Regions from separate parts of the Homo sapiens genome. Here regions 1, 2 and 3 are each linked to region 4. The links come from fine-mapping of genetic effects on gene expression. A gene starts in region 4. Each other region holds a variant in brackets. All regions are shown on one strand. Distances are between the middles of the regions.

Region 1 (8,102 bases), 180 kb after region 4:
ATGATGGGAGACAAAGTCTCTTGGACAAAGCGGCATTTGAGAAGGAACTTAAAAGAAGTGAGGCCATGAGCCATTGAGATATCTCAGGGAGGAGCATTCTAGAGACAGAATAGCAAGTGCAAAGGCCTTGGAGGCAGGCCCATGCTGGGCATAGAGAGAAACCTGTGTAGATGCAGCAGTCTGTCGTGGGTCTTGGGGTGGATGATGAAGCCAGAGATTTGGGGGGTTGTTTACCAACCATAGCAGACCAGTACAAGGGTCCTGCAAAGAAGAACCCAGTCAGATAGTCCTACAGTAAAGACATTGAGGAAAAAATATATATATCCCACAGAGGGAGCATCAGCATCACTTGAAAATGTCTAGAGGGTCACTAGCCATTTGAGGACAGACTCTAATATGAAAGATAAAATCCAAAACAAACAAAAGGAAAAAGCAAGCAGGGAACGCACTACACAGGGAAAAAAAACTTTAAACAAATAAACAACTAAAATATTATCAGAGAGATCAGAGAAGGTATTCCATTCATAAAATAAGGACAGGATAGAACATTCTCAGAACAAAAAAATGACTCTTCAAAATTGAAAATATGAAAAACTCAATACAAGTATAAAGTTGAGAAACATCTCTCCAAAGATAATGTAAAAAAGACAAAGAGAATCGAAGTGAGAGAGAAAGACTAAGATTGGAAGCCCAATTCAACCTAAAAAAGTGATAGGAGTTCTTGGAAGAAGAAAACGTATAAAAGGAAAAGAATCATCAAAGAAATCAAGAAAATGATTCTCGATCAAAAGGACGTTCCAAATGCCTGGCACCGTGGATGACAAATGACTTTCACCAACACCATCGTGGTGCAATTTCATTTACTAGGAGCAAAGGTAAAGGTTCTTTAAGATTCTACAGAGGAACAAAAGGAAAAGAGGTTTCGTGTAAGGTATCAAGGATCAGAATAGAATCAGTTTTCTCAACAGCAACCATGGAAATTATGAGATGAAGCAGAGTCCCCCCTTTTTAAGGGCCTGCAAATCCCTTGCCCTAAGCCTGGAAATAAAGGAAAATCCTGACTTTCTTCAAGGGAAATTATCAACAACTTGATAAGCAAGAAGGTAATAGTCGCCTAAAACAATAGCCAAGGAAGTTAGAGTCAGGAGATGTTTGGTTTCCCTGCAGAAACTAAAGATAACATCTTAACATATGTCCCTGAGTTGTTTTTCAGAAACCTGGACCCCCATCCAATGGATCCACTCTGAGGATCCATGGCTGAGGTCCTCAGCTGCCCCTTATCTGAGATCTGAACTCTGAGCACCATTCTTTGTTCTAAAGCTCTTCCTGGGGAGCCCAGAGGAAGTCATGACCAGGAGCCTGAGCTAAGGTTCTTTTCTGCCGAACCTACATTTTAAAACAAAGCTTCTCTTCCTTCACAAAATTGCAAATCAGAAAATCTTTGAATCTACCTCTGACCTGCAAGCCTCCACTTCAAGATGTCTGGCCCTTTTAGGCCAAAACCAGTTGTCACCTTCATGTATTGATTTACAATTTTGCCTGTAACTTCTGCTTTCCTGAAATTTACCTCTACCTTTAAAAACCTCACCTGGAAGTCATCAGGGCAGTCAGGATTTGAGCATGAGCTGCCTAGTCCTCCTGGCTTGGTGCACTGTGAATAAACACCTCCCTTTTTACCACTATAAAACCTCAGTGTCGCTATCTGGTCTTACTGTGCCAGGTGAGTGGAACCCAGTTTGGTTCTACAACAGCTAGAAGACAATGGAGGCCGGGTACAGTAGCTCACGCCTGTAATCCCAGCACTCTGGGAGGCCGAGGCAGGTGGATCACGAGCTCAGGAGTTCGAGACCAGACTGGCCAACATGGTGAAACCCCATCTCTACTAAAAATACAAAAATTAGCTGGGCATGGTGGCGCATGCCTGTAGTCCCAGCTACTCAGGAGGCTGAGGCAGAAGAATTGCTTGAACCCAGGAAGTGGAGGTTGCAGTGAGCCGAGATTGCACTACTGCACTCCAGCCTGGGTGACAGAGCAAGACTCTATCTCAAAAAAAAAAAAAAAAAAAAAGACAATGGAAAAATGCCTTCGAAATTCTGGAGGAAAATTATTCCCAATCTAATTATTCTTACCAAATTAAGTATAAAGATAGAAGAATATATTTTCAGACATAGAAGTTCTCAAAAGAGTTGCATCCATCCCTTTTTGAAAAAGCTACTGAAGGATGTGCTCCAGGCATGCAATGAAATTACCTAACAAAAGGGGAGTGCCAGGGAATCCCTGAAACAGGATTCAACCCAGAAGAGACGTGAGAAACTCCCAGCATGATGAGTAGCTGCTTCTCAAACTTTAAGAACATGTAAATCACCAGGAGGGCTTATTAAACACAGCTTGCTGGACTCATCCCTAGAGATTCTCCTTCAGTGAGTCTGGGGTAGAGCCCAAGAATATGCATTTCTATCAAGCTCCCCAAGATATTGATGCTGCTGGTCTGGTCCACACTTTAGAGAGCTGTCTAGAGAATAACCAGCTCAAACTAGAGCTTGTCAGAATGTTTCTGGGAGAGATATTTTTCTCAAGAAGATAAAATGGATCAAATATCTAATGCATTCAAATGTCTTGAACACAAACGCACATATGTGGGGGAGAGTTAAATGAATGATAAGTACACAGAATCTAAGCAAATGAAAAAACCAAGGCCAGATGTGGTGGCTCACACCTGTGATCTTGGCACTTTGGGAGGTGAAAGCAGGAAGACTGCTTGAGCCCAGGAGTTTGAGACCAGCCTGGGCAACATGGCAAAACTCTAACTCTACAGAAAATAGAAAAAAAAAAAAAATTAGCCAGGCATGGTGGTGCAAGCCTGTAGTCCCAGCTACTTGGGAGGCTGAGGCGGGAGGATCACCTGAGCCCAAGAGGTCAAAGCTACTGTGAACTGTGATCATGCCACTGAACTCCAGCCTGGGCAATCAAGTGAGACCCTATCTCAAACAAAACAAAAAACAAACAAAAAACAAAAAAAGAGAATAGCTATTAATTTCAGGAAAAACAAAATGTTGTGCAAGAAAAGAAGGTATTCATGACCACAACTGATCCTTAACTTGCAGTAGATAATGTTTGTAGAATTGTAATAATGGAAACACTGAATACAAATTTAACCAAATTCCCCTATAACCTCCGTATTGAGAGTGTGGTGGTGGTGTTGGGAAGAGTGGACATTTTATGGAGGAAGGGAGGCAACAGAGCTAAGTCCTCTTCCTTTCCACAGTGGAGGGTCAACGGCTATTGCACGCAGCCAAAAAAAAAAAAAAAAAATGCAAGCAGCAGCAATATAGGCACATTATTTAGAAATGGGAAGTAAATTCCCAAAATAATCAGCTGAAAGAGTTAACAAGGCCACTGTTGAGAAGTAGAAAATGGGTGGGGCTATTGCTCCTTTTGAACTAATACTTTAAATTATGTGCATGAACAACTTTGATGTAAATAAAACAGGTTTAATGATGAAATAAGTTAAAATAACAAAATAAAACAAAAACAGCAAAAGGAAAGCAATGCAAGATAAAATTGTGACTTGGAACAGAGGAGGAGAACAAACAGTGCCTACAAAGCAGGGAAGTACCTGATCTAGCGTGGAAGGTTAAGGCTTCCCTAGTTAAGAAGGTGATCTCTCTGGGTCCTGAGGGCTGAGCAGGATAGAGTCTAAGAAAGGACCGCGCAGGCGGAGAGAACAGATGTGCAGAAGTGCAGAGGTGTACGGGGAACAGCGAGGTGTCTTGAGTGGCTGGAGAGCAGGATGAGGCAAGTGGCTGGGCACCTGTGCATCAGGGTAGGTGCTCAGGGGAAGGTAAGCCACTGTATGCACCATGCTAGAAAACTGGGCATTATCTTTATTTATTTATTTATTTTTTAGATGGAGTTTCATTCTTGTTGCCCAGGCTGGAGTGCAATGGCATGATCTTGGCTCACTGCAACCTCCACCTCCTGGGTTCAAGCGATTCTCTTGCCTTAGCCTCCCCAGTAGCTGGGATTACAGGCATGCACCACCACACCTGGCTAATTTTGTATTTTTAGTAGAGATAGGGTTTCTCTATGTTGGTCAGGCTGGTCTCTAATTTTTTTTTTTTTTTTTTTTTTGAGACGGAGCCTTGCTCTATCGCCCAGGCTGGAGTGCAATGGTGCGATCTTGGCTCACTGCAACCTCCGCCTCCCAGGTTCCAGCGATTCTCCTGCCTCAGCCTCCTGAGTAGCTGGGATTACAGGCTCCTGCCACTATGCCAGCTAATTTTTGTATTTTTAGTAGAGGCAGGGTTTCACCATATTGGCCAGGCTGGTCTCGAACTCCTGACCTCAGTTGAACAGCTCGCCTTGGCCTCCCAAAGTGCTGGGGTGACAGGCATGAGCCACAGTGCCCAGCCTGGGCATTATCTTTTGCAGGCAGCCAGGAGTCACTGGAGGTGTTTAATCAGGA[G/C]AATCATATTGTCTGACATACATTTTATAAATAAAAACTAGAGGGAGGAGACAGGAGGAAAAGAATCTCATTAGAAAGAAGGTTGTCGCAAGGATCACATCAAACTGTAACAAAATCCTATTAGTCCTACTTTGAGCCACAGACCCCTCCATGGCTGCCACCCTGGTCTGAGCCACCATCACCCTCAACTGACTAGCTGTGCAAACCCAGATGGCTTGGTTAATCCCGGTAAGCCTCAGCTGACTCAGCTAGCAAATGGGATACTAACCACCACCTCACCAGGTAGCAGATACTTAAGGCTCTAGCTTTGGGGTTCAAACCAACTAGGGTTGAAATTCAGTCCCACTGTTTACTCATCGTGGCACCCTGGACAAACACCCTTGCAGAGCATCCCCTGCCTCACTGTAAAGTGGGGATAATGGCAGTTCCTCCACCTCATGGGCTGGAGGATAAAGAACCAGATGTCTATAAACATTGCACAGGACACCCAGCCAAGTCTCTGTGTGTTACTTCCCTTTCTCTCTCCATGCAACAAGCCAGCATCTCTTAGTGTCTCTTAATCACCAGCAGGATCTGACAACCCCCAACTCACCTACGAGCATCTTGCATTATCTCAGTTTCAGCCCTCATCAGCTCTTTGCGGTGTAATGCTCCCCATGAGTCACCAAATTCCCCTATATTCTGAAAGAGCCTGTGCCTACATGGAAACCGCACAAGATCTGTCTCATCTTCCCACGGGCCAGAAATGGGGGTAGCAAGACCACGCCATCTTGTTTCTGATCGCGCAGACTTTACTCTCCTCCCACCCCAAAGAGGCAGAAGTTGCAAGGACCTAAAATAGTGGCCATACCACTATTCATGGAATGCCTGCTATATGCCAGGTGTTGCCATGCACAGCCAATTCCATGAGGGCCACTTGCATAGGAAGCATCCACTGGTCTCCTTCAGGCAGCCACCCCGACCCTCATCCATGAAGAACACAGTGGCTTTGGGGTTAGACACTTCTGTCACTTTAGTAAGTTGCTTAACCTCTCTGTGCCTCAGTTTCCTCATCTGCAAAGCAGAGACAAACTGTTGTGGAGATTCATTGAGATCATTTAGGGAGAGGGTCTAGTTCAGTGCCTGGTACACAGCACTTAATAAACGCTAGCATTGCCAGCGTCCCATCGCAGACTCCCCATGCGGTGTCATAACCGATAGTTTACTTGCAAACTTGCAATTCGTCCTTCTCCTTGAGGTTCACAGCCTCAAGGCAGGGTCTCTCCCGCTCATGAATGTCGTCCCTAGGCCAGTGACTGGCTGTAGAAGGTGCCTGAAAACTTTTACTGTGGGGTGAATGAAAAAATGAATGCCAATGTGGCAGCTGGGACTCAGGCCAGGCGACGTAACCCACACCGCAAGGATGGAAGAGGCAGAAGCAGGAATAGGCATTCAGGCGTGGGAGCCCCAGCCGTCCTTCTGTCCACCATGGCGAGCAGGGCCAGCGTCCTGTCCAAACCCTTGGTGCTGCAGATGAGGAGACCGAGGCGTGGCGCAGTTGGGCTGCTGTCAAGGATCACCCAACGGAGTGGGATGTAACAGGCACCGCAGGGGACCCCAGGCCAATGCCCTTTAGTCACGCCGCCACCTCCCTCCTGGAGCAGAAGGGGAACCCGACGCCTAAGCGGTTGCGTGCGAAGTTCCCAACCAGGCTCAAGGAGTCGCAGAGCCGGGGCTCCGGGCCCGCAGGACCCAGAAGCCACGCGCCCCGCGCTCCCCGCCCCGCCGCTGTCTGCTCGGCCGACCCACCTGGTGTCGCGTGCGCTGGCGGCCCGCGCGGCAGCCAAGCCAAAGGCCGAGGCCGAGGCCGAGCGCGGCGCCCAGCAGCACGGCGGGGGCCAGCAGGGCGGGCGCCGGCCGCAGCGCGTCCCGCCCCAGCAGCAGCCGCGCGTCGCTCTTGCAGGCCGCCCCGCCGCGGGCCATCCGGGGCGCTCAGGCTGCCGCCCCGCCGCATCCCGCCGCCTGCTGCACCGTCCCCGCCAGGGCGGCGACGCGGGACTTGGAGCCCGGGCGGGCCAGGGGCGCGGCCCGCTCCGCAGACTTTCTGGCCTGTGCAGTCTCCCGACTCCTGCTTCTCTCCCCTTCCCTGCTTCGCCGAGCCGGAGGGAGGAGCCTGGATCACCGCTCAAAACTTTCAGCCACCCCCGCCCCAGCCCTGCCCCTGCACTGAGCATGCCCAGAGACAGACGCGCCTCCCAGCCCCGGACCCTTCCGGAGGGGGGCCCGGTTTCCACCCCTTTAACTTTACTGAGGCTTAGAAGGCTCCTTTAAGTTTTTTGAGGCTTAGAATATGCTACGCATTTAGCTTAATGATCTCATTAACTTTCTCAATAACCCTCTGCGGTGGGTGCTCCGCCCATCCTCCTGATGAAGACGCTGGGATCAATGCAATTCCAACCCCCTGCCCTTGCCCCTAACCTCTACCCATCAACCTTCCCGGGAACACACCGCCCTCCACGCCTCTGAACTTGCTCACGCGAAGACTCCTGTTTTAATCTTATTTTGTCCCAGGGAAGGTCGAGACAATGGGTGGAGACACCGTTACACTCAGTCTCCACTAGGAGGATGGGTAAAGGGATCCTTACACCCAGACCCCACTGAGACGATGGGTAGAGAGACCCTTACACCTAGTCCCCACTAGGACCAAGGGTAGAGAGACCCTTACACCCACTCCCCACTGAGACAATGGATAAAGAGACCCTTACACCCGCTCCCCACTAGGACCAGGACACTGCACCATCCTTCATTTACTCAGCACTTGGAGAGAATCTGTTGTGTGTGTGTTGCAGGCTGGGGGATAGGCCAGCCACAAACCAGGCAGTGTCCAGGCTAGTGAGTATCTCACAGTTGTTTAGAGTGATAAAAAATTAAAGGAGTTCATCACTGTGTTTGCTTTAAACAAACATTTATGGGGTAGCTACTAGATGTTTGCTTTTGTCCTGGGTGCCTGGGTAAAGCACACATGCACATGCACGACTGCACACTTGCACTCAGGGGCACACACACACACACACCTACCCTGTGGAGCTTAATTCCCTGTGTGGGCCGGGCTAGGGGACACCATGGGGATCTGCTTCAGCAGAGGAGGGCTTTGTCCTTTCAGCCTAGATGTCCAGCTTGTTTCTAGTTTGTTTCATCATTTCCTCATGGCAAGATGGGAACTGTTATCCAAATTCTTCATCTTTTTTTAATAAATGAAGAAACTGACAGCTGGAGAGGAGAGGTGACTCATTTGCAATTAAGGAGTGGGGCAGAATTCTTGTCTCATTTACACCTGTGTCTGGCTTCAGGGCAAACTCTCTGCTATGTGGAGCTTCTTATATATTACCTTAGAAGCATCTCCAAGGTTCCTGGGGACATGTATGGGGGCAATAACTTGACGCTCTTGTTTTACATTTCCATGAATGCTTAGGCTTTAGTTTTTAAAATGTGGTGTTTGGGCCAGGTGTGGTTGCTCACGCCTGTAATCCCAGCACTTTGGGAGGCTCAAGTGGAGGATTGTCTGAGCCCAGGAGTTTAAGACCAGTCTTGGCAACATAGTGAGACCCTGACTCCATAAAAAATACTAAGGAGATTTTTTAAATGTAGGGTTATTTGC
Region 2 (8,103 bases), 21 kb before region 4:
TTCATGACCAGTGAATGAGCCCACTTAAGCCACTTGCAAATCCTTAACTGTGGGAGGACATTGGGTTGTTTTTATTTCCAAAGGTGACGGTGTGGACCAGTTAGGAATGTGGTTCTGAAGTGAAATTACCCAGGTTTGAATTCCAGCAGCACTGCTTTCTGTAACAGATGCAGAGCCTTGAGCGAGGCCCTCCCACTCTGTGACTCCACTTCCCCATCTGTGAAATGGGACGTGAGGTGTGAATTGTGCTACCTGGATTTGAACTGGCTGACGTTCTTTCTGCTGTGTGATAACTGAAGCTCACCATCCCTGCTGCGGTGGGAGGTGGTTGTATGATATGACCTCGCCTCCTCTTTTGTTTCTTGTGGTTGAGTTTTGAGTTTGGGGGGCCTACTGTTTCTGAGGGCTTCTTCCCGGAGCTTCCTGACAGCAGAAGTGACAGCACAGTTTCTTTATCAAATGTTGCCCTTTCGTTACCTGCTTCACCCTCGGGGCCCTAGAATCATTTTTCTTAGTCGTCATTTGCGTCGGGCCAGTCCCCGGCTCTCTGATGAATGACCAGCCGCATCTCATTGCATTCTGTGCCAATTGCACGCCACCTCTCGCCTGGGCCCCTGCTTGGCCTGGGATGATTTATGGAAGTCGAAGGCAGGATGACTTCTAATGACCTGTGCAAACCAGGACCGGGGTGGGCACAGCTGAAATGCTGGAGTGCTTGATAATTAAATGCCTTCTGGGGTTGGGTGTGTGCTTTCAAGGCTCAAGAAAGAAACATACTATAGCTTTCAGTAGAAATACAGAAATTGGCCAGGCATAGTGGCTCATGCCTGCACTTTGGGAGGCCAAGGTGAGCGGATCACGAGGTCAAGAGATCGAGACCATCCTGGCCAACATGGTGAAACCCTGTCTCTACTAAAAATACAAAAATTAGCTGGATGTGGTGGTGCGTGCCTGTAGTCCCAGCTACTCAGGAGGCTGAGGCAGGAGTATCGCTTGAACCCGGAAGGCAAAGGTTTCAGTGAGCCGAGATCGTGCCATTGCACTCTAGCCTAGTGACAGAGCGAGACTCCATCTCAAAAAAAAAAAAAAAAAAAAAAAAAAGAAATACAGGAATTGAAACCTACGACTTTCCTGCATCAATGGCTTCAGGTTGTTATTCTTTTTAAGAAGGATCATGTATATTTTTCAGTTATACTTTCCTGTATATTATGGTTCACAAACACATTTTATTTTAAAGATTTAAAATGTCTAGCTTTTGCAGCCCCAGGCTGGCTAAGCAGGGCTGTGTGAATGAGCTCACCTTCTCAGATTTTAGACAAGTTACTCAATGACTCTTGAGCCTCAGCTTCCTCATCTATAACAGTGGGATAAGGATACAGTAGTCATACAAATTGAGAATTATATCAAAAAATGTGGGGGCCTCTGGTAGCGTAGGCATGATGTACGTGATCTGGAAATCTTGGATCCACTTTCCTGTGGCCAAATCTTTACTTAGGTTTGGCTAATTTGGTGTCGAACCAGGGAAACTTCCAACTTCTAGGGAAAGCCAGCTCTGGATTTCCACCCTCTTCAGTCCACATAGTGATGTGTTTGGGCCCGATGGCACTGTCCCCAGCCTGCCTCTGCTCTCAGCTGCAGTGCTTTGTTGCTGGCAAGCTCAGACTCTGCTTGTGCCCACCTCAAGCAGAGGCTCCTGTCCTCTAAGCAGAAGATCTGCGAGGCCTTCTGTGCTCTTCACAGAAGTGCTCTCGGGGCCGTGACCCTATTTCCTGCAGGAGTGACCTCAGTACCCATCTGGATATTGTCTTCTCTGCCCTCCCTGTCTCACCTCCCTGCTCCCTCACTCCTACTTCTGGGATCTCCCCCCAAATAAACCACCTGCACCCCTGTCTGGGTCTCAGGCTCTGCTTTTGAGGGTGCCCAATCCAAGACAGGCAGCTTTTAGAAACTTGCAGAGTAATAGCTTTGCCCTTGGGTGAGTCACCCTGCCCTGAAGGCAACCTGGTTCTCCTCTGTGTCCTGGGGAAGAAGGGAGTGGGCTGCGATGTGAGGGAAAACAACCCAGTGCCTGGGGTCTGAGCTCTGGGGGCAGGTCCTGGCTCCCAGCCTTCTCTGTGGTGGGCAGGGACCCAAGGCTGTCTGTTCGGCGTGGTTAAGCCCCACCCCTCTCCTAGTTGATTGGTCAACACCCAGACAAAAAATCCAGGCAAGGCAATGGGAATTCTTCATTCTGAAACTATGATTCTCTGTGCATGGGCCCCCCAGAGTAACCAGGAGCTGTTGGTGCGTCTGTTCCCTGTCCAGTGAGGGAAGCCAGGACAGAATAAGAAAGAAGTCACAGCCCACAGGAACCAGGAAAATGGTAGGGCTTCTTGGCAATGCTTGGGTCCCTGGTCACTACTGTGTGGAGCTGAGCTCTGCCCCTGTGGTAGCTGCACACCCATCCCTTGTTACAGGACTAGCCTTGCCTTCCTGTGCCATTTTTGCCCAGGCAACTTCAGTTTGGTTCCTTTCACAAGCAGCCAAATTGTGCCTGCAGATACAAAACCTGGTCTATCTCAGTGAAATCTATGGTTCTAGGTACAGTGTACTTCCCAGCAGGTAAGTGTAGCCTAAAAGGAACATTCAGGAAAAAGAGGAGAGGGAAGTAACCTGGATTGAGCTTCTAGAATGTTCCAGGCACTGAACTTACCTCCTGTGATGGAAGAGTGAGTCAGGCAGGAGATGCTTAGCTGCAAGAAACAGGACACATCCTATTGAAACGAGCACGTGTTTATTACCCACTCATCAGGGAGACTGAAGTGCATGGCATCAGGGCTGGTTTGGTACCTTGGTGATGCTACCGACCACTCAGTTGCTTTCCATCCTTCAGAACCACTGTCTTCAGTTTGCTAGCCTTTCTTCCTGGTGGTCACTGCCTCATGTCACAAGGTGGCTGCTGTGGCTTTAGTCTTCACAACTGTGTCCCAAGACGAAAGGAAAAGGCAAACCTCCAGCATACATTGGCCAGGGATGCCCACAAATGTGTCCCATGGTCATTCCTACCTGAGAGCCAAGGTCCCTCTTTCCAAGCTCTAGTCTAGGAGATGACAAAGGAGAAAGGAACTGGGAGTAGCTGTTGGTTGGCTAATGAACCATGTCTTTCCCTAGTAGCATGTGTGCACATAACGGTATCAAGAACAAACTGTGTCTGAGAATGGCAGGAACTGGATATGATCAAACCTTAAAGCGTGTGGACAAAATGATGGGAAATGGTGATGTTGACAGGCAAGATGAAGGGGGTCCTGGCATGGCCCTAGGGACCACTGAGGCTCTTAAGGCAGGTGGACCCAGGAAGGGGGTATTTCAGAACTAGATTTACAGTCTAGAAAGATCCCTCTGGCCATTCCCTGGAGGGTCGTTAGGAGGAGAGTTGAACTGGAAGCAGGGCAGAGACATTTGCGGTGCCTGTCCTGTATATTGAAGATAATATTTTTAGGTGTAGAATTTAGAGTAATTACTTTCTGAGCTACTCATTGGATTAAGGAAGTGACCAGACAGACAATCAAGGTTAAACTAAAACTCATTAGAAATACAGGAGAATTTATCCTAGTAGGGAAATAGACTATGAGATGGCACCTTCATCTGATTTTTGATTTGATGGAAATGGCTTTTATCTGAATTTCTGTGTGCATAAGCAAATCCCAGGCTACATTAACTTACTGACTCAGCCTTGTAAAACAAGCTCAAGGTTATTATGTCCAAGTGAGATCAAGTACAAATAACTTTAATGCTATAGAATAGGACATTATACCCTCTAAGTATTTCTAACAAACGAAAAATGAGAAGCACCATCGCACACATTTCTTCAGATAGATCTGCTGGCTTTGTAAGAGAGGACATGGTAAACTTATATAGGTATTAAAAATTCAAACCGTGATAATTAATTTTAAGTGATGTATGCTTATTACAGAAAAACTAGAACACAGAGAAAAGCAGTTAAGAAAACATTAAAACCCATAAAAGGCCAGGCGCGGTGGCTCACACCTGTAATCCCAGCACTTTGGGAGGCCGAGGCGGGTGGACCACAAGGTCAGGAGATCGAGACCATCCTGGCCAACACGGTGAAACCCCATCTCTACTAAAAATAAAAAAAATTAGCTGGGCATGGTGGCAGGCGCCTATAGTCCTAGCTACTCAGGAGGCTGAGGCGGGAGAATGGCATGAACCCGGGAGGCAGAGGTTGCAGTGAGCCGAGATTGCGCCACTGCCCTCCAGCCTGGGCGACAGAGCGAGACTCCAAAAAAAAAAAAAAAAAAAAAACACCCATAAAAACAAAAACAAAATCTGTTAACCTCCTGGCTCATATTCTTTTTTATCCCTGCGGGTAAGTTTCCATACAATATTCATAATCATAGTCAATATACAATTTTATCTACTTTTTCATCTAGTCTTGTAGGCATTTTTTCATGCTATCATTGTCTTCATAAACTTTACTTCTCATGATTACATAGCATGAACCTTTCTCAACCCTTGTTATTGAACATTTGGGCTGCCGGGGTAATGAGATGACTATCATTGTCTATAAATCTTTGTCTTCATAGAAGACTATTTCTTGGAGATTGATTCTCAGAAATTGAATTATTGTCTCCAAGGGAATAAACATTTTTAAAGCTGTTGATACCTATTGTTGGTTCAGAAATTCAAACTTGTGCTAAAAGTTAAATTAAAAGCAGACAATGCAGCGAGAAAGCCCCGCTTTCTGTATTCTTTCCCTTGGCAGCCTGGAGGTTTGGTCCCAACGTCTGTGGACGATTTACTGCCTTATTTCTAAATAGGATCAATACACCCAGGAGCCCTAGTGTAATGAGATTCAAAGGGACCCTGACTCCTGAACGAATCCATCAATTGGACCGGAATGTTAAGGACAGCGAAAGTGAAATGGCTCTAATGAATCTTGATATTGAAACAAAATATTAGGGCATTTTGAGAAGAAAGCATTTTATCTCATCT[A/G]TATTTTCCATTCCCCATGTGATTAGGAAGCTCATGGAAATTGAACAGGCTCATCTGTTTCATAGTATATGCTATTTCTACACACCAGAGCTTTCTCTGACCCTCACTACCCTCACTCAAAATGTGTTCCCAGAATAGTCATTGCCTGCCTGCCATTCCCCAGGCACTGTGCAGAACACTAGAGACACGGCCTCCTCCTCATCAAGGAGCTATGGTCTGGAGTTTCCAGTAGTTTCCCAGGATCAGATGCCAGCTCTGCCATTGCTAAGGCCTCTGAGTATCTCCTTCTTTACACCAGCCCCATAAGGTAGGCGTTGTCATCCTCATTTTACAGATGGGAAAACTGAGGAAGAAAGAGGTTAAGTAACTTGCCCTAGGCCACACAGGTAGTCGGTTCCAAAGCTGGTTGTATTAATAAAATTTTATTTTCTATAGTTTGTGATGTTTTGCCATCTTGGGGCCTTGTTGGCCAGAGAGATACGGCCCCTGCCAGGGCTGGCTAATTTCTAGAGATGGAAATGACTCCCCTGTGAGCACGCCTTTCATATGCAAGCCAGACAATCTACAGCCTGGCAGGTTTCCAGTCTCCTCCTTTATCTAACATACCAAGCCAACATTTCCCCTGCCACATGTCATCCCAGGCCCAGGTGTCAAACAACTAGAGAACATGCAAAAATATAACCCAGAGCATGCAACAATTTTAAAACTCTCCAGTACTGGGCATGCTCAGGCTTGCCTCCCCTGCCTCACCCATTTCTTCCTGCAGAACTCACAATAAAGGCTCTGGGCCAGGCTCTCTCTGCACTCCTCTGCCTCCTGCTTCCCTCTGTGGCCTTGCATGGTGTGGCATGCCCCTTCCTCTAGGGAACTGTGAGTAATAAACTCTTCTTTCAAACACAGTTGTCTCTATGTCTGTCACATTACCATACCCTATTAAAACAAAATACTGGGTGCATTTTAGAACACTGGTGCACTCTTTCACCATCATACCCCTTTTACAAGGACAGATACATTTCCTTGAAAGTAATTTGGTAGAAACACTGCTGAAAATGCTTTGTACACTCATCCCAGCTCCTTTTCTTCATAAAGGCCTATCTGCTGCAGTTATAAAAATATTTTCCTCATTCCAATTTTTTCCTATTACATTTGCAAAATTGGTATCCTGCTCTCATTCATTCATGCATCCATTCATTCATTCTTACATGTATGTCTTCCCCAAATACACACACACACACACACACACACACACACACACACACGAGTGGAGTGCTAGACTGGAGCTGGCTCTTCCTGCATGCCTTTTGAGAGCCAATTGCATGCGTCTCTTACCAACATATCAGCAGCTTAAAATCAGCCATAGTAGGAGTGTTTACACCACGGAAATTAAAAAATGCCGAAAATCAGGTCTGGTATTTTTGTTTGTTTGTGTTTGTTTGTGTGGTTTTTTTGTTTTTTGTTTTTTTGTTTTGCAAGACGGAGTCTCGCTCTGTCACCCAAGCTGGAGTGCAGTGGTGCAATCTTGGCTCACTGCAACCTCCGCCTCCGGGGTTAAAGCGATTTTCCCGCCTCAGCCTCCCAAGTAGCTGGAACTACAGGCATGCACCACCATCCCCAGCTAATTTTTGTATTTTTAGTAGAGACGGGGTTTCACCATGTTGGCCAGGATGGTCTCGATCTCTTGACTTTGTGATCGGCCCGCCTGGGCCTCTCAAAGTATTGGGATTACAGGCGTGAGCCACCACGCCTAGTGTTTTGTTTGTTTTGTTTTTGTTTTTGTTTTTGTTTTGAGAGCCAGTTGTTAAACATTTGCTAGCTCACCACTGTGGTTCTCTATTTCTGTTCCCCACCAGGGCCTGAGAGCAGCAAGTTTCCTCTTCATCTTTTTATCTGGGGCAGGCAAAATGGATCCTGCCACCTTGAGTGGTGAAGCAGGCCAAGCTGGGCCTTTCTGCATGTTTTGTCATTCTGATGGACCTGTAGGCAGCCAGGGAACCAGGCTTACCTATCTGAAGAGAGGCCCCTCTCTGTAAAGGGATCCCTTGCTGGGGTTGTAAGTGACATGTGAAGCATTCCCTCCCTGGCTTCACACACATTCTAGCAAGTCTCATTGTAACTTCACTCATGAACGAATTCCCCAATAGTTGGAGTTGTCCATGAAACAGACTTCCCTGGCACAGCTGGTGGGCTCCCCATCAGAGGACACATCCATGTTTGGGCAACCATCCACCACAGATACTCGATGTGGGGGTTCTGGTTTTGAGAAGGGCCAGAAAACCCCACAAGTTCGAAAGGCACAGAAAGGGAAGAGGCCGGGCATGGTGGCTTACGCCTGTAATCCCAGCACTTTGGGAGGCCGAGGCAGGTGGATCATGAGGTCAGGAGATCGAGACCATCCTGGCTAACATGGTGAAACCCTGTCTCTAGTAAAAAATACAAAAAACAATTAGCCAGGCATGGTGGCGGGCACCTGTAGTCCCAGCTACTTGGGAGGCTGAGGCAGGAGAATGGCGTGAACCCGGGAGGCGGAGCTTGCAGTGAGCCAAGTTCACACCACCGCACTCCAGCCTGGGCGACAGAGACTCCGTCTCAAAAAAAAAAAAAAAAAAAAGAAAGAAAGGGAAGAAACCCATTGGCTCTGATGAAACATCTGTTAGACAAATAGGGACATGGTGCTACTTTCAAATTCAATAGAGAGGTATCCCCCCCACTCCACTGACAACAACAAAAAAGAGAGCACCTGAGGGCAGGGACTTTATCTTATTTCCCCTCAAACACCAAAAAAGCTTCTTGCCCAGGGCTACACACATAGAAGATTCTTGAAGAATGCTGGCAGGGGGTGAGGTAGAGAGGTTATTGGTTGAGGAACTGGGGAGGCCACTCCAAGCTCAGCCATGATCGAGTGGGGTGATTATTGTGGGGTCATTTTCTCTTTGAAAATCTCTTTCCTCAACTGATTATACAAGGACACACTCTAGATAATTCCTTAGGAATAACTAGTATGTTAATTAAAAACACCACAATTCACATTAATTCTGTTTATAGCATAATGTGGATCATAAACACAAACATTACTTAAAATATAAAAATTAGTGACCAGATGGAACAGATTGA
Region 3 (8,103 bases), 75 kb after region 4:
GGTGATAAGTTGAGTACAGGAAGGCTGTGTTGTAGACCATGAAGAAAGGCAGACTTACAGCTTATTTGCTTTCTCTTTTTGATTTTCCTCAGTTCCGCCGGCTCAACTTCCCCTCCCTGATAAGGACTCTATCCTTCCCACCTTTCAGCATTATCCACCCTTCATGATTTACTCATTTAATAAATATTTGTTGAGCTCCAGGCACTGGGTTTGCTGCTAGAATTTTACATCTTTATGCAAGAGAATAGGTAAAAGTAGAATGGATGGTTGGTTTTGAAAGATTAAAATTAAGAACCTCTGCACACCACCCCCCCCCCCTTCAGATCCACCTATCGCCAATGAGGGAAGTAAATCCAGCTTGCGGAGTTCACATGCACATGCACACACATATGCACATGCATATACAAATGTGTACACACACAATATGTAAAATACCTTTGGAGTGTGGGACAGTGTGCCTAAGATCATGGGCTTTGAAAACCAACCAGTTTGGGCTTCAATCCTGGCTTCCCCACCCAACACCTGTGTCCCGCAAGACACGTGGCCTGAACCTCAAATTGCTCACCCGTAAGTTGGGAGTACAAACACCCCCTTCATAGTATGATTGTGTGCCCTAAATGCAGTAACATGTTAAAGCACCAAATGTGCGCCTGCACACAGTAGGCACTCAGTAAGTGTTTGATCACCTGTCTCAGGAATGTCGGATTTTACTGGGGATTTTGACAAGAACACCACAAGGTGGTCAGGGCTGAAGGTGGGGGGAGCCCAGGGACTGAGGGGCACAGAAGAGGGAGCAGTGGACTCTGTGGAGGCCAGGGAGGCTTCCCATGGCTGGTCCTGGACTGAGCCCTGAATGAAGGTGGGTCCAGTGGAGTGCATGGCAGAGTACATGGCCTCCAGGAGCAGCGTGGAACTGATGCTAACAGATCCCATCCAGCAGCGATTGGCGCTCTCTTTCAGGTGCCCAGATAGATGACAACAATCCCAGGCGCACCGGCCACCGCATCGTGGCGCCCCCTGGTGGCCGCTCCAACATCACCAGCCTCGGTTGAACGTGGATGCGCGGAGGAGCTAGCCTGAAGGATTCTGGGAATCATGTCCATCCCTTTTCCTGTCAGTGTTTTTGAAACCCACAGTTTTAGTTGGTGCTGATGGAGGGAGGGGGAAGTCGAAGGATGCTCTTTCCCTTTTCTGTTTAGGAAGAAGTGGTACTAGTGTGGTGTGTTTGCTTGGAAATTCCTTGCCCCACAGTTGTGTTCATGCTGAATCCACCTCGGAGCATGGTGTTTTCATTCCCCCTTCCTAGTGAACCACAGGTTTTAGCATTGTCTTGTTCTGTCCCTTCCACTTCTAACTCCACTGGCTCCATGATTCTCTGAGTGGTGGTTCCTTTGCACCCTGTAGATGTTCTAGGATAGTTGATGCATGTTACTAAATTACGTATGCAAGTCTGTGAGTGCGTCTGAGGGGACATCGCCAAGGACTGACTGAGACACGATGCCGAGACCTCAAGCCCTGAGGGGCAGTCCCAAAACCCTTACAGTGAAGATGTTTACTCATTGCCCCCACCTCTGGTCCACACTAGAAAGAAGCTCGCCCCACCTCCACCTGTGAGATCCGTGAATTCTCGGAATGGCAGGGGAAGCCTTGCACTAGGTTGCAGAGAAGCATCCTCCACATCCTGTGTCAGAAACCCTGGTCTCCGTGGCACTTGTAACTCACCGTGCTGTCTTCTGGTCTGTGTGTGTTCTTCAAGCCAGCTCTAGGCTTCAGGCCGAGCCAGGTTCACACTCAGAAAGAGGTCTCCCCATCCCCATTCGGGGCTGACGATGGGGGGCTGATGGCTGCCCCTGCGTGGCCTGAGTCCTGGTCCCTCTGAGGCAGTTGACGGGGCAGTCAGATTTTTAAAGTTTTGTACAAAGTTTTCCTTTGTAATCACTCCCATTTTTACTTAACAACCAACTTGTTGTGGCTCTTATTTCTGAATTCAAAGCTTGTGAAAAAATAAAGAAAATGAACTGCCCACTGACCTGACTAGGGCACTTTCATTTCAGTGGTGGTGTCTGGATTGGGTACGAATGCTTGGCAGTCCCCCCGCGTGATAACGAATGGTGGTGGCTGCTTCCTGAGGACTCACTCTTGGTAGAGACTGGTGGATGTGGGGGTGGGAGGAGAGATTCAGTTCATGACTTCTGAAGGCTGAGTTCCTGAGACCCAAGGAGGCGAAGAGAGGGAAGACGGCTGATGGGCGGGCTTCCACAAAATAGGCTCAAATCTTGCATTGATTCCCTCCTGTTGGGCCTTTCCTGGCTCTCTTTCTTCTTGTATTGTATGGATCAGCCTCAGACTGGAAGCTCCAATCTCCTAAACTTCACATTTCTTCCTTCCATTTCCATGAGCTAGAGATACACTAAAGGACGGATAAAAACAGCAGGCAAAGTTGCTTGCTTCCATTAGCTGTTGTTAGTAATAGTGATGACAATGATGGTGGTGACAGTAATGATGGTGGTGATGGTGATGATGGTGACGATAGTGGTGATGATGATGGTGGTGTTGGTGATAGTGATGAAGTTGCTGGTAATGACAACAAATACATGGGCTGATAGCTGTATAGCAGTTGCTATATGCCAGGTGCTCTATGAGGTAGGGATTATTATCCCCATTGTACAGATGAGGAAACTGACTCAGAGTGAGATCAATAACTTGTTTAGGATCACACACTTAGGAAGTGATGGAACCAGGATTTGAATCCAGGACCCAGGCACTTTGGGCCCTAGTCCAAAGCTCCTTGCTCCTAATTACTGAGCTCCAAGGGCATTTGAGGCAGATGGCTTTGGATGCTCTGGTCCCACATCAACGCAGGGCTTTTCATGTACCCTTCTCCTCCCCCGCTCCTCGGCTTCGTGTGGATACCTTTGTCAAGGTTGAAAGAAGTGTTGGCTCAGGGTCAGTTATAGACTTCCTTGAAACAAGGTTAACTAACTACTGAGAAAGACCAAGAATGGATGGTAAGGATTTTTGGATGGAAAGACCAAGAACGGATGGTAAGGATTTTTGATGTTCGGCTTTGGCCCATTTGGACTATTAAAGGGAAACTTCCAGAAAAGTAAAGTTGGCAGGATGAAGTTATCCAGCCTGTTCTCTGGGCCTGGCCTCCTCAGTCCTGTCAGGGTGGAAGTGGAAGCAGAAGCAGCCCTAGCACCTTCTCTAAGACAGACTCTGACGGGGTGCTTGCCTGACTCCCAGGTCATGGGAGCCACTGTCCAACCAGCATAATCTAGAGCCCATGTCGAACTTTGGGTTCCCCAGCGCCTCCAAGAGGCACAGTTACAGGGGACAGGAGACCTGGTAGCTCAGATAATCCTTAGTTCTTGGAGACTGAGCTGCAACACTCCTTTTAAGGCATGTGACTTCCTTTTACCTCTTGAGATTTTGGGAGGAGGGAGAGAGAGTTTCTCAGAAAGTTTTAGGGGAAGGCTATTCTCATTCATTCATCTGCAACCCAATTCTCCCAGCCATGTGACATAACATACTCACAGGCCCAGGGATTAGGATGTGGTCATCTTGTTGGCAGGGACGGGGAGCGTTATTCTGCCTACCACAGTAGTCTTCTGGGTTTTTTCTAGAAGTTTTATCTTTCACATTTAGGTCTCTGAGCCATCTCTCAATAATCTTTATGTACAATATAAGGTAGGACTGAAGGTTCTCCATTTCCCATATGATCTCCCATTGACCCAACACCATTTATTGCAAAGACTATTCTTTCCCCCATTAAGATGCAGTGGGGCCTTTGTTGTAAGTCAGGTGATTGACCCTTCTGATTCAGTGGTCCAGAAGTGTGCTGCCAAATCAATGTTGAACAATGGGTGAAGGTGGGTGGGGTAGAAAGCCCTTGTTTGTAGTGTTTGCTAGTTCTGTGGACCCCACTTCTGTTACCGATTTTCTGTCTTAGTCCATTTGGCATCACTGTAACTGAATACCTGAGATGGGGTAATTTATAAAGAAAAGGAATTCATTTCTTACAGACTTTGAGACTGAGAAGTCCAAGGTTGGGGTGGTGCTGGTGCATTTGGTGAGAGCCTTCTTGCTGGTGGGGACTCTGCAGAGTCCTAAGGCAGTGCAGGGCATCACATGGTGAGGGGGCTGAGTGTATTGGCTCAGGTCTCGCTTCCTCTGCTTATAAAGCTGCTGGTCCCGCTCCCATGATAACCCATTAATCCACTGACTCACTGATACATTAATCTATGAATGAATTAATCCATTCATGAAGGGAGAGCCCTCATGACCCAATCACCTCTAACAGGCCCCACCTTTCAGTACTGCCACATTGGGTATTAAGTTTCAACATAAGTCTCTTGCCATGGCCAATTTCAACCTATCGACATTAAGTAAATGAGTTTGGAATCCAGACCACTTAACTGTTGGCTCTGATGTCCCAGGAAGGGGTGGTTCTGGCCCCTCTGCATTTGTTGGTGTATTAGTCTGTTCTCACTCTGCTGATAAAGACATACCCAAGACTGGGTAATTTATAAAGAAAAAGAGGTTTAATGGACTCACAGTTCCACGTGGCT[A/G]GAACTTCACAATCATGGCAGAAGGCACGTCTTCATGATGGCAGGCAAGAGAGAGAATGAGAACCAAGTGAAAATGGTTTCCCCTTCTAAACCATCAGACCTCTTGAGACTTATTCACTACCACAAGAACAGTATGGGGGGAAACTGCCCCCATGATTCAATTATCTCCCACCAGGTCCCTCCCACATCACGGAATTATGGGAGCTACAATTCAAGATGAGATTTGGGTGGGGACACAGCCAAACCACATCAGTTGGTTTGTCTATCTTTGCCTCCAGATTGCATATTGACTCTTAAAAAGTGAGACAGAATGGGCAAGGTCTTTGCACATACTTTTCCTTCATCTACGTAAAGCCAAACCATTTTCAGATGTCACCAGTAGGGTCTACCATGTTCTAGCCCCCAGGGTTGGTCTGGCCACCTTGATCATAGACAGTGGACAAGAGAAGGTGCTACCCTTATCCTGGGGCCAAATCTCTATAGACTCAACAGAGCTACTCTTCTGACGTAAGTGCGTAACCCTCCTCTGTGTTACTCTTTCCAAGGCAGAGTGTGGCCGTGATGCCCATTGACAGTGTCATTTGCCTAAAGGTTCATTCCAATCAAGTCCATTTATGAAGTGAAAAACCATGAAAAGAAGTTTCCTAAGCAAAAGGGGCTCTTAGCAAGTTGAACTTTCTATTTTTCTCTTAGTGCAGACCTGCAGAGATTTTAGAGGAAAAGACACAGGGGCCCTGGTGCACCTGGCTTCAGAGTAAAGCCTCTCACTGGTAGTCTGTTCCCAAGAGGAGGAAAGCTGTGGCATGGCTGTGCGTCCAGAGTCCATCTGGGAATTTTCTGGGAGATCTATCAAACCACTTAGGCAGCCTGGCTATCCATTATGCCTGGATGTGGACTTCAAAGTCTTTCCCTATCAGACGGGAGCCAAACACCACGTGGGTAGCTTGGGGTCCCAGCTTGCAATGGACAAGAGCCCCGACACGGTGCAGGAAGCCTCTATAGCCACTGCCCTCCCCCATCCAGGCCACTGTATTTGGAAGGAAGAATGTCGACCAGGACCTCCATGACTCCAGTTTCATAGCAAAAAAGAACACTCCGTATCCCAACGTTCACTTGTAGCCATGTGGGCAAATGCCTGGTGCAGGGGATTTCTCCTGGGCCAGGCGGCCCTGTGACCTTTAGGCTGGGGCCTCAGCCTCACTGATTCCTTCTCCCAACCTGCCCTGCCTTTGCCCAGAGCATGACGGAGGCAGCTAAGTGGTTTCCAGAGAAAGGAGAACATGGACAGGAGTCAGTTCTCTAGGGTTGCCTGGGCCCAGAGTTCTCAGGAGGTTGAAGGGTCAACTAAGCCTGAGACGGCAAGTGCCTTGGTCCACGTCCTCTGAGACGCAGACACTGAGCCAGGATTAGATGTGGGCAAGATGTGTACTGGGGGACATATCTGTGAGGCAAAATGAGGAGAGAGCCAGAGGAGGCAGAGCCCACAGATTTGCGATGCAGCTGACAGCCCCATGATGGAGGGAGAGAGGGAGGGGAGAGAGGGGAGAAGGGAAGGGAGGGAGGGAAGGGAGAGAGGGGAAGGAGGGAGGGAAGGGAGAGAGGGGAAGGAGGGAGGGAGAAAAGAAGGACAGAGGGGGTAAGGAAAGAAGGGAGGGAGGGGAGGAAGGGAGTGAAGAGAGGGTAGAAAGGAGGGAGGGAGGCAAGACTCTGGTGCTGCACAGTTCTACATCTCAGCAGGTAGAGCAAGAAGTCCTGGGGCCCAGGCTGTCCTCTGGAGGAGCCCTGTCATGTGGGCTAAGGAGGCCTCCACATCCCTGCCTCTTGCAGGCACTGGGAGCACCCTGCAGGAAGTGTGGCCTCCATGCTCACGCAGGGAAGGATTTCTGAGCACGGCAGGAAATCCCAAGGATGTTGGTCGTTTTTGCTCCTTGCCGTTGGGGACCCAAGAGGTACATGTTCATGGCCACCACAGCCAGAACAAGGCGGATGAAGAGCTCACCTCAGACTAAGTCCAGCGGCTGGACTGCAGGCTATGTCGGTGGGCAGGAGGTGCATCAGGAAGTGGACCAAGTCCATCAGCGGGAGCCCAGTGGGGAAAAAACAGATCCCCAGGCCTCCTGTCCAATCTGCTGACTCAGAATCTCTGGGATGGGGCTAAGAATGTTGTTTTTAATGAGCCCCTGGGTAATGCTGACACACAGCCAAATCTATAAGCCATGGGGGGAAAATAGTATTCCTGGCCTCCCTCCCTCCCTCCTTCCTTTCCAATCCATACACCACAGGAGGAAAGTATATACTCAGCGTTCCTCCCTCCCTTCCTTCCAAACCAGTTGCCACAGGAGGAAAGGAATATTCCCAGGCCTCCCTCCCTTCCTTCCACCAGGTGACCATGAATGCCTGTTATATGCCAGGTGGCATGTGGCCGGTCAATGGTGTACATTCCAGGGGGGACGTCAGGTGCGAATCAAATGATTACTCAAAGCACCGAACTGCACACTCTGTTAAGGGCTATAGAGGAAACATTTAGGGGAGAATAATCCCATCTCCCACTCCTCTGGTTTCCATAGAGGGAGGGGCTTCCACTCTCTGGGGGACAGCACAAGGGACTTCCCTGGCCCCTCTCCCTCTCTCTTTTATTCTTCTCTGGGGAGGAGGAGAAATACCTGATTGGCCAGTCTGGGAAGGATCACTCCCAAGACAGTGCCTGCCTCTGGATCGATTCGTTCCCCCTATAAATCACGCTTTACCCTCTAAACGGCCACATTTCCCCCATTTCCCGTCTCCCTATGAGGGTGTGGAAGCACCTGGACCTCACTGGTTTGTGGGGTCATCACTCTCCTGCAATTCCCCATGCCATGCACGTTACGTTGGAATGCTTTTCTTTTTCCTATTGGTCTGCCTTTGGTCAATTGTTTCTCAAGGAGCCTTCGTAGGGTGGAGGAAAAGCTTGCCCTCTGTGCCCCACAGCTGATTCACTGTAAAGCTCATGGAGCTCACACTTCTGCCACCTGTGCACAGACCCCACCGAGACCCGGGAGTGGGCTTAGCCACGGGTTCACTGACACATTCCTTACAGTTTACAATGCCACAGTCAGATCTTTTAGCTGCAATCCTTAAGACCACTGTTCCCTTTCCTGCTGATGCCACTGCATATCAGGTGACACTAGGGAGGCCTGGGACATTTGGAGGATCTGGGTAAGGGCCAGTTGAGTTGGGTTTAGTGGGATTGTTTATGTGGGTCTCACTGTACACCTCTGTGTATAGTGATGAACTTGGACAAGAAATAAAGGAAGGTTATTTATATGCTCCCCCACCGACCTCACCCCAGTCCCAGCAGCAAAGAACACAGGACCTAGAATCTAAGGGGGGCCCTGATGTTGTTCAGGGTTGGGGGCAGAGGGGGATCTCTGGAGATGTGAGTCCTGACTCCATGTGAGGAGTGGCTAGGAGCCACTGGGCAGAGGGCTGGGGAGGGGGGCAGGGGTCTTCCAGAAAGAATGCACATCATGAGCAAAGGCCCAGTGGGGGGCAG
Region 4 (8,103 bases):
CCGACACCTCCCCTCCGGAAGCTCTTCAGCAGGACCTGCCTCGGGTCCTGGGGCAGCTATCCTCCGGGGCCTGCCTGCAGTGAAACCATCAGTCCGTGGAGATGTTCACTGGATTCCTGACCAGTTGTGGGTCGGGCTCAACCCTCCCTCTGGGTTTTCAGGATTTGTAATGATCGCTCCATTTGTGTAAAATAGGCCGGCATTTTCTCTTGTTACTGAGATGTATTTTTCTATGTGAGTTAAATGTATAATTTGTGTAATTTTGTACATTAAAATGTATGCTTTTTCACAATTAAAGGGTTTTTTTCCCTTCTGAATGTTTTATTTATTGATGGTTTGTTACAAAGTGTTGTCGACCCTGACGTAACAGAAAAAGGCAATGGAGCTAGGATTCCCTTGATTTTTGGTGGGGAATAAATGCTTTTCTTGGTACTCAAATCCACTTTGCACAAATAATTAAATGATTTCCTTTATAATCATGTAGTGATTTCTGATTGCTGCTTTGACAGATGACCATGAACCCATTGCCTTAGAACAACTCACATTCATTATCTTGTAGTTCTGAAAGTCAGAGTCCCTGGGCTACAACCGAGATGTTGGCAGGGCTGCCTTCCTTCTGGAGGCTCCAGGGAGAAAGTGTTTCCTTGCCTTTTCTGGCTCCTGGAGTTGCCCACATTCTTTGGCTTGTGGCCCCTTCCTTCCTCTTCAAATCTCTCTCACTCTGACCTCTGCTTCTGTTCTCTGATCTCCCGTTCTCAGACTCCGACTTTCCTGCCTCTCTCTCACTTAAAAGGACTCTTGTGATGACACTGGCTCCACCAGGTGATCCAGGATCATCTCCACATCTTAAGATCTGTAAGCAGAGCCACAGAGTCCCATTTGCCATGTGGAGTAACATGGGCAGTAGTTCTAGGGATTCAGGTGTGGGCATCTTTGAGCATCATTATTCTGCCCACCACAGTCCCATATGTACTAATTTGGAGGCCACAGAAAAAAGCAGACATTTAAAAATCAAATGAGCCTGGATTTGAACTGCATCTCTGTCACTTGCTGGCCATGTAACCGAACATGTTTACTTGTTTAACTTCTCTGAACATCTTTTCTTATATCTGAGATGAGGACAATAATCCATTACTATATACCTGATGATAAACTACAATCCCCTTTCCTTCATTTTTTGAAAACATTCTTTTTGCAATGAATGAACGAATTTTTTTTTTTTTTTTGGTTTGCCGAAACAAAATCCACATCGGACCTGAACTGGCCTCTTGTCCTCTCCCATCTGACGTGTCCCTTTCTGTTCTCTGCCATCACCCAGGAAGAAGGTTTCATGTCTGACATGATGAGCTCAAGGTTTGTCCTTCACCAAATGTAGTGCTGTAATTCACTTATAAGAACTCCTTCCCAGGAGGACTAGGAGCAGTTGGAGGATGGGTTGGGGGATGGGGGAGGTCACAGCTGTCGTCAGGATGGGGGCAGTTATCTCAGGCTTCCCCTGCTGCCTCTGTTGGTCCCTGGCAAATATTGCTCCTTTCTGTCTCCGTGCAAGCTGGAGGGTGCATTTCCAACTTTATACCCTGGGTTTTGTTTCCTTCCTCCCTTTCTCTGTTGCGCTTGGGTTACTGACCTTGAGATGAGATGGTGTGGAAAAAACTCAGACAAACCTGAGTTGAAATCCCAGGTTAGTCACTTCCCGGTGGTTAACCTGAGCAATGGGCTTAAGGTTTGTCATCCTCAGCGCTCCAGCCTGAAGATGGAAGTGGCCTGGTTCGCCACGTGGGGCTGCCTGAGGGAGCCAGCAGTGTATAAGGCAGAGCATGATGCACGGAAATGAACTGTGTGTGCAAGGACCCTTATACACAGTATGCAGTTTCAGGAGGGTCCGATCGCCTCCTCTGCATGGGGAGAAAAGAGTGAGAGGAAGTGATATAAAGTCAGTGACACGCAGTGGGCGCCACAAAGGTGTGTTAGATGAATGTCGAATGATTAGTTGCCCAAGACTGCATGCAAAACAGGATTCTAACTCAACCACCTAGACTCTTCTGCCTAAACTAGGTCCCTTTATCTCTTATCTCCCAGTGGGACCACCTCAGTCAGGCTCTTGGGGAGAGGAAAGGGTAGTTGTTTCGATGTGGACTCTGGCACCAGACTACTCTGTTTAAACCTCGAAGTCTTACTTGCCAGCTGTGACCCTGGACAGGTTATTTATGTCTCTGAACCTCAGTTTTCTCATCTGTAAAATGAGGCTAAAATGGCAGTTTCAAGGTTGCTGCGAGGCATAAAAGAGTTACTATCTGTTAGGTGCTTACCATGGTCCGGGCACGTAGTAAACTTTCTATAAGCAGAAGCTATGAAGATCCTTTCCTGCTTCTGCATAAAGACAGCACTTTCTCAGCTCCTTCCTTGCGTCACTCCCTCTAGTCTTGGCAACTGCCCAGCCCTTTCTCACAATGGAAAGGGTTTTCTTTAGAAGCAGTAAGATTTCCATCACCACCAACAAAGCCTGAGAGACTGTGTCCTCAAGATGTTGAGAGCAGATTCAAGCATGCAGTAGGAGGCCTGGCCTCCAAAGTTCCACCTAACTCAGACTTTTGAGTTTTCTGATATTTCTCTGGGTTATGTCACCCTGAACATTTGTGGGGTTTTAGAAGAAATTTCTATGTGGTTTTCGACATGAATTGTTCTTGCCTGGAATGGGCTGGGAATAGTATTTCACAGGACAGAGAAAAATTTTCATTGAAAAATCGAAAACACTTGCAAGATAGCCTGGAGGCTGATGGGCCTCAAGAGGAGTGTCTGTGGCAAATCTGCACAGTGGACCCAGGGACACAAGGAGAGAGGAGCCAGGATGCAGCTGCGGTGGGTGGAAGGTAGATGGAGGCTGTGTGTGGAACTTTCTGTTCTCGCATTCAGCACTCTCTCCCCCATGAGAGTAAACACTTGTTGAAGACAGAGACTTAGAAATACTCATCTGTGTCCCCACACTAGCCTCTCTCTCAAGCACAGAAAAATAACTTGCTAAATGCCCACCGAGTGGATGAGCCCACGCTCTAGGCCTGGCTGAACCTCCTTGAGATTGAGGCCCTGAGGGAGCCATTTCACATCTCCCCTCCTGTTTCCTCTTCCAAGAGGGGGCCGGTAAAAATACCTACCTGCTGCACAGACCCCTTGTTGCAGGGTTGAAAGACAGTAGCTTCAGGGAGGTGTCAGCTGAGGCCACGGATCCGACGGCCCCAGGATCCTCAGTCCATGGGGCCCAAGAGTCATAAAACAAGAACATGAATCCATCTGTCTGTCTGGTATTCCTGGAGCTTGGTCACGCTGCGGGAGCTCTGGCTTGCAGCTGGCAGGGCCCGGGGTTGAAGGGACAGCTCCCAGCATGGAAGGCTATGGGTGGGGGGACATTGCAAGAAGCACTGATGCTCCCCTCTGCAGTCCCCACCCAGTCCTGACTTTGCTTGTCTAGACTGGCTCGAGGAGGGGGTCGGCAGCTGGCGATTCTGCCTCTCCAGGAAGTGCAGCTGGGACTGTAGGGTCCCCAGGGACTTGCAGGATCCTCTGCCTGATAATCGTGGAGAAATAAGGGAAGGTGTCTATAGGAGGCAGGTGGTGCCTGGCCTTAGAGGAGAGCCCCAGCAGAGCGACCTCCACGACAGAGAAACCCCAGAACGCCCAGACTGCAAGCTCCAGGAGCAACAAAAGTGGACTGTGCCCCTCGAATGAGGGAATATCTGTCTGTCTGGTTGACTGCCAGCTGTGTGTGTGTGGTCATCTCTGTCTCTGTGTGTCTTTCTCTGGAGCGTTTTTATTTAAGCTTTTGACTTCCTTTATTACTGGTGTGGACTTGTGTGTGGGCATCCTGTTGCCAGTTTATGATGCACATGTGTGGAATCGCCCTGAGCTTGCCTTTGATATTGGTGTGTTGTGTGGTGTCATTGGCGTGCACGTGTATGTGTGTGTCGCTGATTCTCATGCAAGAATGTGCTTCTCTTATGTGTCTGTCGGAGTGTGCCTCTAGCATGTCCCTCTTGGCTGCTGCACCACCTTTCCTGGCCCTTACCACCTCTTGGCCCACCATATGGGTGCTTTTGTATCCAATTCCCCTCCTTAGCAGGTCAGCTCCTGGAGGGCAGGCACTTGGTCTCTTTTGTCCATGGCTCTGTTCCCAGCTCCTACAACAGTGCTAGGCACTAGTGGGCGCTCAGCAAAATAAAACTGACGGAATGAACGGTGTGTCCAACGCATGTGCCTCTCCAGTTGTGCAATTAATCTTGGTGTGATACTGTGTGTGAGTGGGGTTGTGAGACAATGAGGATTTCTGTTGTGTGTTTGTAATGAACTCGGAATGTGCACAAGCATATATGTGTATGTGTGTGCAACATTGAGTATGGTGTGCATGATCGAGCCCCTGTGTATCTCTGGAGAGCATGTGTGATTGACTCTCGTGTGTGTGCCAGCATGTCTGTGCATCTCTCATGTGTTTGGCGTAATTGTCTGGTGTGCAGGTATGAACCCGCGTGTGCCTCCAGAGCGTGTGGGCGCGCGAGTGTACGCACACGGCTCCTGCCCCGCGCTCTCCTCGCGCCCTGCGCTCCGCCTGGGGGCGGAGAGTGGGGGGTGCGGCGAGGGCACTGCGGTGCCGCGGCCCGCCCTCCGCGCTGCGGCTCGGGAGCGTCACCGTCCCTCCCCGCCCCAGCCGCGATCCCCGCCTCCTGGTCCTTTGTAGCTGGCCGCGCCGCTAGCCCGCAGCCGCCCAGAGGCCCCGCCCCGGCCCCGCCCCGGCGCGCGCCACGCCCCGCCCCTCCCCTCCCTGGGCCGCAGTCGCGCCCGGGCCGCCGCAGGCCCGCACCGAGGCGCGGAGCGCGGCGCACGGCGGTGCCCAGGGCCGCGGGCGGGCAGGCGGGAGCGCGGTGGGTGGCCGGCCTTGGACGGGTATGGCGGACCGGCGGCGCGCGTGGAACACCGAGGACGACCTGCCCGTGTACCTGGCGCGGCCGGGCAGCGCGGCGCAGACCCCGCGCCAGAAGTACGGCGGCATGTTCGCCGCGGTGGAGGGCGCCTACGAGAACAAGACCATCGACTTCGACGCCTACAGTGTGGGCCGCCGCGGCTCGGCGCGCACGCCGCGCAGCGCTGGCCGGCCCGACGCGGTCGGGCTGCCAGGGCCGGGAGGCAGCGAGGACACGGCCAGCGACGTGAGCGAGCCCTCGGGCTCCGCGGTCAGCTCTCCCGGAGAGCGCGACGAGCGGCCGCCGACGCTGCGCATCCGCCGCCCCGCGCCCCGCGACCTGCCCCTCGGCCGGGACAATGGCCAGGTACCCTCGGGGCGCGCGCGGGCCAGACGAGGGGGGCGGGCCCCGGGAGGACCCAGGGCATGGGGCGCCCGAGGGCCATGCCCGGGCCCCGGTGTTGGGGCAGCGGCCGCCAGGCTGGGGAGAGCCACGGCGCGGCCCCTCCCCCACCTCATCATGCAAGAGGTTCCCAGAGCTGGGGCGACTCGGTCGGGGCTGGCCGGCGTGGTCCGTGAGACTCGGAAGGGATCGCCCGGGTCCAGTCCCGGCTCCTCTTCTACAGAAAGGGAGAGAGGTTCTGAGAGGGGAAGTTGGCTAAAGCTACCGCATGGACGCTTAAACGCGAAGGAACCTCTGGGATGAATCTAACCCAGGCCCCTCATTCTGTTTTGTGAAAAGAACTGGAGCTCCGTTCCGTGTTGGTCCATTCATCCATCCACTCAGTCGGTAGTAATTATAGAGCACCTACTGTGTGCCGGGCCCCGGGAGAGGTTCCGCGAGTCGCCTGCGGCCACACAGCTTAAAGCTGGAAGGAGCTTTTTTTCCGAGCGCTCCCCTCATGCTTGCTGGGGGGAAGGATTTGGTTAAGGATTTAGTTCGTCGGGCAGTTGGAGCCGTAAACCCCTACCCTCAAGCGCCAGTAGATTCAAGGGGCACTCCTGAGCTCCACAGCACACACCGATGTGCCTGCTTCACAGAGCAAGGTGGAGGTAGAGCTGGGATTTGAACTGGGGTCTCTGGCCTCCCGGACCTGAGCATGGGGCCGGGAGGATCAGGGAGAGGGAACGCTAGGGCTTGGGCCCTGCGGGTATTCTCTCTTGAGCTGGGGGTCACCAGGAAACTGGGGGAAGAAGGGCGGATGGACGGCGTAGCCTTTGGATGGACCGACGAGAGCCAGGGTCAGGTGCCAGAAAAACGGAAGTTGGAGCATCCGAGGGCTGGGGAGCTTTCGAATTGGTCCAGACCTGGATGCCGGAGAACTGCTAGGTGCCAGGCCCAGGGTAGGCGCTAGGTCCCTGGCTCAGCAACCTGGCCCCACCCTCCAGAAGTTCCCAGGCTAGGGTGAGCGACGGATTCATTGTGAGAATTAAATCAGTTAATGCCGGTCGGTAGTGAGCATTCAATAAATGTTTGTTGTTGACTTTTATTACAATCATTATCATTTTAATTAAACCTTCCCCTCTTAAATGCTATGAGTGACCCAAAGTGAGCCTGGAGGGAAGCAGAGCTTGATCGGGGCAGATATCTGGGAGGGCTTCCTGGAGGAATAGGAGCAGGGAACTGGTAAACACGGTGGTGGGCCTCTTCGGGCCCCATCCCTTCGCGGGCGGGCTGTTGCTCCAGAGCTCTCCGTGGTCCTGAAGCCGGAGCCTCGCGAGGGAGAGGTCCAACAGCAAGGGTGTGTGTGTGTGTGTGTGTGTGTGTGTGTGTGTGTGTATGTGTGTGTGGTGGTGGGGTGATCAGAAAGGGAGATGGTGCGAGAGTCCAGCTTCCTCTTCCCCCACCCCTTCTGTATCTCCCCCTGTCCACTACCTTCCCTGGTGGTCCGACCTCTCTTGGGATCCAAACTCCCGAGCCCGATGGGGAGGCTTCTGGGCCGCGGGCCGAGAAGCGGGACCAGCACCAGGGAATCCGGGTTTCCAGCCAAGGCGCTTTGCTCTCTTGGGCCTCAGCTTCTCCATCTGTCAGATGGGGGTGGCCGTCTTCTTCCGGCCTTCCTCAAAGCGTGGTGGAGTACTAGGGAGGCGAGGGCGCTTTGTGCACGGCCCGTAGCTGTCCCAAGGAGAGTTCCTCTGGAACTGCGGTCAATGTCACCAACGCCAGCATCTCCCCCAGGGCGCAGCCTGGGCCAGCCCCGCAGCTGCGCCCTGACCCTTGGGGACGCTGGTCGCTTCACCTCTCCCGTTCCTCTCCCCTACTCCTTCCTCTTCTCCCTGTGGTCCCCTCTGCCTTTCTCCATGGCTTCTCAGGCACCGGACAAAAGGCAGCGCCTCTGGCGCTCCCGGGGCTCCGAAAGCACTCGAGCTTCGCGACTGTGGAACTCAGGGGCTCGCGATCTCCACGGAGGGAGGGTTTTACTTTCTGCCGGCAGAGCGGCCTTGAGGCTTGGGTTACAGTGGGCTCGGGTTCCGGGGCGGGCCTCACCGCTCCAGGGCTTCGCAACGGGTGCCCCGGCCCTTCCCCCCCCGCCCACCAGGCTTCTCCCTGGGCTGCAGGAGGGGTTTCTGCGGCGCAGGCGCAAGGATTGCCGCTGCCGGAGGCTGAGCGGCTGCGGCGCTTTGTACCGGCGAAATCTGCTTGGGAGCAGCGATCTGTTTGGCCAGTGGCAGGCGGATGCTCCTCCCCCTGATACGCACGTGGTCTTGTCCCTTGCTGTAGGGGCTTTCTGCTCAGATCTCCAGACTGACCCCAGGGAACGCCCTGGTACGGGGAACCTAGGACTTAACAACTCCAAGGAAGGGAGTGTAGGAGTTGGGGAGGGACAGTGTCCCCATCTGCAATTTCCGGTCATTGACAGGGATTTTAGGCCCCGCTGAGAGCCAGGGATGCATGAATGCGTGGAGGGAAATGAGTTGTAAACAGAGTGTAGGGGAACCTGGCATCTCCATGCTGCTTTGCTGCAGCTAATATGTTTTGCACCCGGGGTACATCATTTTACCTCTGTAAGCCTCAATTTCCTGTCTGTAAAATGGGAAAATTATGCCTAGTGTTCCTGGGATACTGAGCTGGCTTCTCTGTGAAGCTAAAACCTCACCTCTATTTTAAGGCCCAGGTGTCTCTGGCCTCCTGCCCTGGATTAGGGGACTGGCCC

Direction of the effects. Alleles are on the strand shown, and positions count from the first base shown. SD is a standard deviation of normalised expression in the study named. Not every link is listed here.
For the expression in testis of the gene that starts at base 4,818 in region 4, allele C in region 1 goes with a higher level than allele G (small effect, 0.26 SD a copy in GTEx).

The links. PIP is the estimated chance that this variant, and not a neighbour inherited with it, causes the effect.
Region 1: its variant is fine-mapped to the expression of CRMP1 in testis (GTEx, PIP above 0.99).
Region 2: its variant is fine-mapped to the expression of CRMP1 in lung (TOPMed, PIP 0.95).
Region 3: its variant is fine-mapped to the expression of CRMP1 in tibial nerve (GTEx, PIP above 0.99).

Annotation. Positions count from the first base shown.
Region 1 is chr4:5,709,706-5,717,807 of GRCh38, reverse strand. It overlaps EVC (EvC ciliary complex subunit 1), which reads right to left and starts at 6,607. Exons shown (of 21, transcript NM_153717.3): 1 at 6,254-6,607. The coding sequence starts at 6,427. RefSeq lists enhancers at 4,964-5,273, 5,859-5,928 and silencers at 6,399-6,548, 6,599-6,648. The variant G/C (reference allele first, on the strand shown) is at 4,466.
Region 2 is chr4:5,910,405-5,918,507 of GRCh38, reverse strand. It overlaps a transcript of C4orf50 not described here. Among named protein-coding and RNA genes, the nearest start is that of MIR378D1, 8.9 kb to the left of the region's middle. RefSeq lists an enhancer at 5,262-5,887. The variant A/G (reference allele first, on the strand shown) is at 4,993.
Region 3 is chr4:5,814,709-5,822,811 of GRCh38, reverse strand. CRMP1 (collapsin response mediator protein 1) reads left to right here. Exons shown (of 14, transcript NM_001014809.3): 14 at 961-2,048. The coding sequence ends at 1,052. It also overlaps a transcript of EVC not described here. Among named protein-coding and RNA genes, the nearest start is that of CRMP1, 74 kb to the left of the region's middle. The variant A/G (reference allele first, on the strand shown) is at 4,572.
Region 4 is chr4:5,889,801-5,897,903 of GRCh38, reverse strand. It overlaps CRMP1 (collapsin response mediator protein 1), which reads left to right and starts at 4,818. Exons shown (of 14, transcript NM_001014809.3): 1 at 4,818-5,315. The coding sequence starts at 4,935. It also overlaps a transcript of C4orf50 not described here. RefSeq lists enhancers at 6,213-6,956, 6,957-7,701.